Linked DNA regions of Homo sapiens. The protein of the gene in region 1 purifies or fractionates together with the protein of each later gene. This does not show direct contact. Each region holds a gene or a part of one and is shown in the gene's direction. Other genes may lie near its edges.

Region 1 (3,825 bases):
TAATTATAGAGCTTTATTTGGGCCAAGTTTGAGGAATACAACCCAGGAGCATAGATTCAAGTTGCCCTGAGTATATGCTGTGAAAGACTTCTTTATAAGAGGCAGAAGCTGGCATTATTTGAGATTTGGGTGTAAAAATTATAATTCAATTAGCTTCCTTTTCCTTCCCTTATGATCCATTATCTTAACTCTAGAATATGGAAGGAAGAATGTTCAAGCTAAGTCTCTGCTCTTAATCAGACTTGGAGTTGACATTGCTCCTTTGGTTTATAAAATTTGTTATCTGTCCAGCCATAGTTGAACATTTTAATTTCAGAATAACCAGAGCATCTTAAGAGGCCAGAGAAGTGTTCTCTGTGTCCCTTATGGTATTTGTTTCACATGTTCTAATAAAATACATAAAGGATTCCTAGGAACCCAAGACTGTTGTTTTTACTATTAGGCAGAGGATAGTACCTGACACTCAATGTCAGCTTTTAATTGCTTGAATGAATGTACTGCATTTTTTGTTAGACTGAGCCACACTTTGATTTGGAAAAGGGGAAGATGGGAAGACTAAATACACAAGCAGGGACCCATAGGGTCTGTGATGGTCAGGAATCCACATAGAGATGACACTTGGGTATAAATTCAGGGGTAAGATTAAAACTGGGATATAATTTTATTTGGGTATAGGGAGATGGAGGAGATAGTGAAGGAACAGAAGTACCCAACTAAGGTGAAGGTGCCTAAGAAGAAGGCAGACGGGGCCTCTGTGATAACGTGGATTCAGAATCAGAAATCTAGTCAGTGAACATTCTCTCAGGTACAGACACTCCAAGTGTGGCAGTCGGCATGTATGAAGGAGAGCCTCCTTCACTTACACCAAGGCCTCTTTGGTTTTGATAACTTTGCTGCCACACCCTGAATTCAGTCTTTGTGATTCTTCGCTCTTCTTCAGCATTGCTTTCTGTCCCTTCTTTTCTTCTGCCTTGAATCTTGTTCTGGTATTTCTTTTTCACCATTTGTAGCTCAGCTGTTTCCACTCCATGTTGTCTCTTTCTCAGGGATACGTAGCTACTGTTTCAAAAGCACTTTGCTAATTTCTATTTCACTTGTTTAGTTAACTTTGGACACTCAGTTTTGTCATCTCCTGCCCCCATCATATCCTAATCATGACTCTGAAGAAAATCCTTGGTGGTCACATTGAGAGACCTTATGTGTTCTGTATAATAAAGAACTGGGGGCCATTAACCTTTCTAGAGCATTTACAGAAATTTTTATCTATCAGCCTTTTTTTTTTTTTTGAAACGGAGTTTCACTTTGTAGTGCAGGCTGAAGTGCAGTGGAGTGAACTTGGCTCACTGCAACCTCTGTCTGCCTCCCGGGTTCAAGTGATTATCCTGCCTTAGCCTCCTGAGTAGCTGGGATTACAGGCGCACACCACCACACCTGGCTAATTTTTTTTTTTTTTTTTTTTTGTATTTTTAGTAGAGACAGGGTTTTGCCATGTTGGCCAGGCTGGTCTCGAACTCCTGACCTCAAGTGATCTGCCCGCCTCGGCCTCCCAAAGTGCTGGGATTACAGGCGTGAGCCACCACGCCCGGCTGTATCAGCTTTTCATCTTCATCCAGCTGACTCTTTTTATCTTAAGTAGCAATGTTAAAGGTAAATGAAAATAGTTTCATATTCAATTTTGCTCTCAAGTTTGATGACTACCATTGTAAAATATTTGTGTGACATTTAAGATACAGCAAATGTATTTCATCTATATTGTGGCCTTTTTGTACAAGCCAGAGAACTTTATCATGATTTATAACTTCTTTTTTTTTCTTACTATGGGGAGAGGCATTTAAGTTCCAGACAACTTAGGAACAAATAAGCATTTGGAATACAACTTGTAATTAGAGATCTGCTTTTGGTTAAAATAAGCATGCCTCCATCAACCATAAAATACCCCCCAAACAAGAAAAAATAAACAAGAAACCTTTTAGCAAATGAGCTCAGGGCCGAACATAGATTACTCTTCTAAGCATAAATCTTGTGCAACAAAACCTGATACTCAGAATTCTGACCCAGCTCGAAAATCCCTTGTCATCGGATAAAAACTAAGTTATGCATTTACCAAGGAAAGACAATGTAGGAACACATTTAAGGTTTTTCAAAAGAGTGACCAGAATGTTCAGTTAAATATTAACGGGAAGACTATTTTCTGAGTATTCTAGTTATCTGAGATTTAGTTGCAAGAATTAAGATATCTGTAGTGTCTTTGAAAAATTATTTTTACCTTTTTTTACTTTTAGTTTTTAGAAGAGGTGTTGGTAGAAGTGTAGGTGGTAGAAGTTTAGATGGTTATAATCATTTTTGTAGCACTTGGCAGCTTTAAAAAGCATTTCCCATATATTTTTGATTGATCCTCAATACTCAACAACTGTGAAATAGGAAAGTATGATGACAGTCAATTCTGCTTTACAGATAAGGAATCTGAGGCTCAGTCAGGGATTCAGTCAGGTTTCCATGCAGACATTATTGTGCATAAAAACCACCTGGGAAGTGTTAAAGACAGAGATTCCTAGGCTCCAATCTCAGTGATTATGATTTAATAGATTTGGAATGGACCCAAAGAATCCTCACTTTTTAACAAGCACCTCAAGTTATTCAGATGTAGGTGGTTGATTTACTCTACTTCTAGCAACAATGGGCTAAATTTATAGGCAAAAGCCACACCATTAGTACATAATAGACTATGATGGTAACTGGAAGGACTTTTATCTACAGATTTTTATCACGGACTAATAGCTAATGCCATCCCATTCATTTGCTAAATGTTATATCCTATTCATCAAGCTTGGCCTGCTGTTGGGTTTCCAACTCTCCTTTGCCTGCTTCAGTATAACAATGTGTAATTAGAACCTAAGAAATTTCTGGTGTGGTGATGCTAAAGCTTGCCTCTATATTGAGATATATATGTGTCTTTGGTAGTTCAGTGATGAGATTTTCCTGGGTGGAAGCCAAAATTAGTGCACTTTATTAGTGTGAAGTCAACAATCAGCTGTTTCTGGGAGCTTCCAAAGTAGGTATACTTTTGGGAAATTGTGCTTTTCTTCTTAGTTTGAGTTTCCTTCTTGGCTTATTTTGAAATGTAGTAGAATAGAAAAATAGAGAGTTTTGATAGAAAGTGATTTTGGGATGTGTGGTGGCTCATGCCTCTAAAGGAGACCGAGGCAGGAGAATCACTTGAGGCCATAATTTAAGATCAGCCTGGGCAATATAATGAAACCCCATGTCTATCTCTCTCTCTCTCTCAATCTCTCTCTGTCTCTCTTTCTTTCTCTCTCTCCATACACACACACACACACACACACACACACACACGTGTGTATGTACATATCTCCATATTTTATATATATGTATAATATGCATAAGAAAATCATTTTGGAGGAAGTAAATTGTCACAGCGAATTGTCACAAGTGTTTCTCATTTATGGATTGACCATTTTCTCACCGTATTTCAGGACTTTGCACAGACTTAGCTGGCAAACATCCTATAACAGGTGTGATTTGAGAGTCTTAAAAAAAAATCACTATCTTGGTTTTCAGGTGAATATTTTTGAGAAACTAGCTTGTTCCTAAAGATGTGTTTCCCGATCCCCCTCCTGCTTAGAAAGCTTTTTTTGACGTTAGCAAGCATCTGGGGGATCTTGATGCTCTCTTATGGTTAGAGAGAGAGAATTGAAAAGAAACTCAGTAGATTAAGACATTATTTGCCCTTTCACTGTGTTGACTTTTACACCGTGGTATTAAAGGAGTGATGGCACCTTAGCAGACGTCATTGCAATGACACCA
Region 2 (3,541 bases), on another chromosome or scaffold:
CACCCAGCAATAACAGAATGCACATTTTTAAGTAACTATAATACCAAAAGAGACCATTTTATGCCACAAAACAGATATCAATAAACATAAAAAGATTCAAGTTAATACAAAGTAAATTATCTGACCACAATGGAATTAAATTAGAAATCAGTAACAATATTTGGAAACAAAACCAAATCCACGCCTTGTAGCTGTGTCTGGCATGGCACATTGTACAACACATTGGGACTTGGGTTGCCCTTAGAATTTATATTGTCCAGTCTCATTATTTAGCTGAGGAAACATAACTTCTTCAGAGTCTCTCAGAGTTCAATTAATATGTACTGATTGATTGATTAAACAGTGATACAACAGCCATGCTTTTTCTGGAATGGCTACTACCACTGGAAAGCACAGACCTGAGCTCACCACATCTGTAACCCCTCCTGAGGGTGCCGTGGGGCCACCTGGTTCCTCCTTCCTCTGGGCGCCCCAGCACTTTGCATCTCTGTTGAACACACACTGTTCCACTGCAATGATCTGGTATTTACATTCTGTCCCTCTGACTATGCCAGAGCTTCTCCCAGGGCAAGGGCCAAGTTTTATTCATTAAAGCTGCTCAGACAGTATTGAGTGAATGAATGGGTAGATGTTATCTCTAAGGAAATTCTGCCTCCCAAAAGGACATATTCCTCCAGCGGAATACACACTTGAAGTTATCCAAGATGTAGAGTGGAGTGGGGTCTCCAGGGGTGCTGCTGAGCTGAGGTGGATCATCAAAGTCTTTGGGATTCTCTGCTGTCCTTGCAAAGGGCTTTTTGTGCCTCCAGAGCTGCTTAATGTGTTGTACCTCTTGCTTCTTGCATTTCCTCCTTTGAATGCCCCAGACCAGCTTCCTCCTCCCTGTGCCCCACCCTCTGCTTTTCTTTCATTCTGAGTTGGGCAGAATAAGAAAACCTGCTTTATTTTTTCCCGTCGTGATTTGATTCCAGGGGTTCTTATCATGCATACATTTCTTTTCCCTCTGATTTTATATCCATATTTAAATCATACTTGGGAAGTCACTTACTAGATTCCTCAAGCTCATGGTAGAAACTGTTTGAGATCCTTGATAAGCTTAATATATTCATATTAAAATTAATAGGAGAGGTATATTGTTTCCAACTTTATGATTTGATTTAAATTCATTTTATTTAATATATGACCACAATTCTAAAATTACTTAAAAAAACAGATGAGATTGAAATCAATTCTGGGGACCCTTTCTCTATTACTGAGTTAACTGTATGCCTGTAATGTGGCAGACAAGCTATGCTGCTTTTCTCATGTGACATTTCGAGTCTGGATGTGGGTGTAGCAGGCACCCTCCTTGGAGGCTTCAAATGAGTGCTCTGTGAAAGATTATGTGCAGGCTCTTTTTAAATGCTACCATTAAAAAAAATAAAATTTAATGGAAAGAGATAAGCTTTTCCCAACACCAGCCTGCTCCAATTTTATATTTCCTTAATCTGTTTTATATGCTACTGCAGGAAATTAAACCAGAATTGTCCTCTCTGACATGCGCATGGGTGACAGATGGGAGTGGTAGGAGAAGGGAGACACAGAGCTACTTGAAACAATTGCTCTCGTTTGTCAGAAATTTATTGTAACTTTTTTGGGGGATGGTAATGTGAGGGGAAGCCCTCCTCATCTTCCTGCTGTACTGAAGGGCTGTGCCCAGGGCCACACAGGGCCCTCTCCGTACATCGTTGAGGACTGTCTGCCCCAGCTCACCCAGTGCTGAAGGGCTGTGCCCAGGGCCACACAGGGCCCTCTCCGTACATTGTTGAGGACTGTCTGCCCCAGCTCACCCATAGGCCCAGGTGATGTTCAAGACAAGGACCAGATGTCCTCATCACCAGGTGTGAATTGCAGCTTCCTGCTGACCTGTGTCACACCATTCATCCACGCACACATCCGCACACACAGTCACTAACATATTTTGCACATTACTGAATCCTACTTCTTTCTTCTCGTTTTTCTCTCCCTTTCTCATCTACATCTGCCCATCTTTCAGAGAAAAGTATGTTTGCTTGTGAATTAATCAAATCTATATGGCGTTTTACTTTCTAGACAGATGATGTAGTTTCTTTTTTTTTTTTTTCAGTTGCTTCAGATTAGTTCTCTGCCCCTACCCATACCCATTTCCTCTCTGTTTCTAGCCACCCTATGGACGAGATCCTCTAAACTTAGTATCTCAGACTCTACACACACATTCCTGAGGGTTGCCCCTGTTCCCCTTTGCTACTGGTGATGCATTCAGCATCAAGTAAGAGAACACAGAACATGACCAGCAGCATCTTGACAAGGAAGGCACCTGTGTCCCCTCAGGGTATCTCTGCAGCCATGTCCAGGAGAGCCTCTGCTCCTCTCCTTGGTCACTGCAGTCTGTTCATACGGGGAGGCTGCACAATGCAGTCATGGAATGGACACACTGGGTTGAGTCCTGAGAGCCGAGAGGTCATCCTTAGTCTAACTCTCAAGCCAGGTGACCTCAGGAAGCACTTCCTTCCATAACATGAGGGTATTGGACTAGATGATCCTTCTGGTCTTTCCTCAAGGAAGCAGGCTGTGAGGTGTGGATGTGAAGCTGGAGGAAGGCCAGGAAACTCCCCCTTCCTGGCTGTGGCTCTAATTCCAGAATGGCTGAAGAACTGGAAGTAGTTACCGTACTGTGGGATGGGCAGGTCTGCCCCTTCCATGAACAGGAATATACTGGATCAGTGGGGAGTAGACCTTACTCTTAAAGCTGCAAAAGAGGAGAAAGTGAAACTCACCACTGGAACTGGAAGAAAAGAGCGAGGAAGGAAGCCTGGAGCCTGTAGTATGTTCAAAGCATGCCAGTGAACTTATGTTGTTGAAGTGACAAGAAGATGGCTTTGTCATTTAGCCTCTGAGTCAAGTCAGAGAGAAGCACAGATCATTCTTCAGATGGGGAACCTGGGGAATGTAACCAGGAGGGCAAAAAAGAGGCTGGTCTGGAAATTCTGAGCAACAAGGCCAGGCCCTCACCCAGCCGAGGGCCTCTGTGAGGGCAGGGAGGGAGGCGAGGCCGAGCAGGTTAGGTCTGGCCTTTTTCAGGACGGAGGGTTACGTCCCTCTCTGCAAAGATCTTTCCAGGCAGTGATTCTGCCCCATTCATCTTCCTTTGCCAGATCACAAGCACTCTGGCTCTTTGTTGAGTAAAAGGGAAGAGAACATCTAAGAGTGCTTTCAAGTAAGAAAATTTCCCATGAAGGCTCTCTGATCTGAGAAACCTTCTCTTTCCGCAATCGTGCTGTCACACAGGTCTCTGCCTCAGACCTCAAGATGTCCAGAGCAGCGGAGGATCCAGGGCAGTGTGGAGAAAAGAGAATAAAACACGAGGCATGTGCTCCATGAATGCCATCAAACATTTGTTTTTAATCTTCTGCCCAGGGGAATCTCATAGAGCTGGGCTGCTTGCAAGGTGGGGGCTGGTCCCAACTCCTCCCCTGCACTCCGGACAGCCCCCTGCCTAGGGATTTGCTGGCAGATGCTGTGC

What was found.
Region 2: the proteins of ENPP1 (region 1) and SMYD3 purify together in Homo sapiens (affinity purification with mass spectrometry; one large-scale study listed by BioGRID and IntAct). This does not show direct contact.

The regions. Positions count from the first base shown.
Region 1 is NC_000006.12:131,814,433-131,818,257, forward strand, and holds part of ENPP1 (ectonucleotide pyrophosphatase/phosphodiesterase family member 1), read left to right. Parts: intron 1-3,825. UniProt on the Homo sapiens protein: Nucleotide pyrophosphatase that generates diphosphate (PPi) and functions in bone mineralization and soft tissue calcification by regulating pyrophosphate levels.
Region 2 is NC_000001.11:245,751,833-245,755,373, reverse strand, and holds part of SMYD3 (histone-lysine N-methyltransferase SMYD3), read left to right. Parts: intron 1-3,541. UniProt on the Homo sapiens protein: Histone methyltransferase. Specifically methylates 'Lys-4' of histone H3, inducing di- and tri-methylation, but not monomethylation. Also methylates 'Lys-5' of histone H4.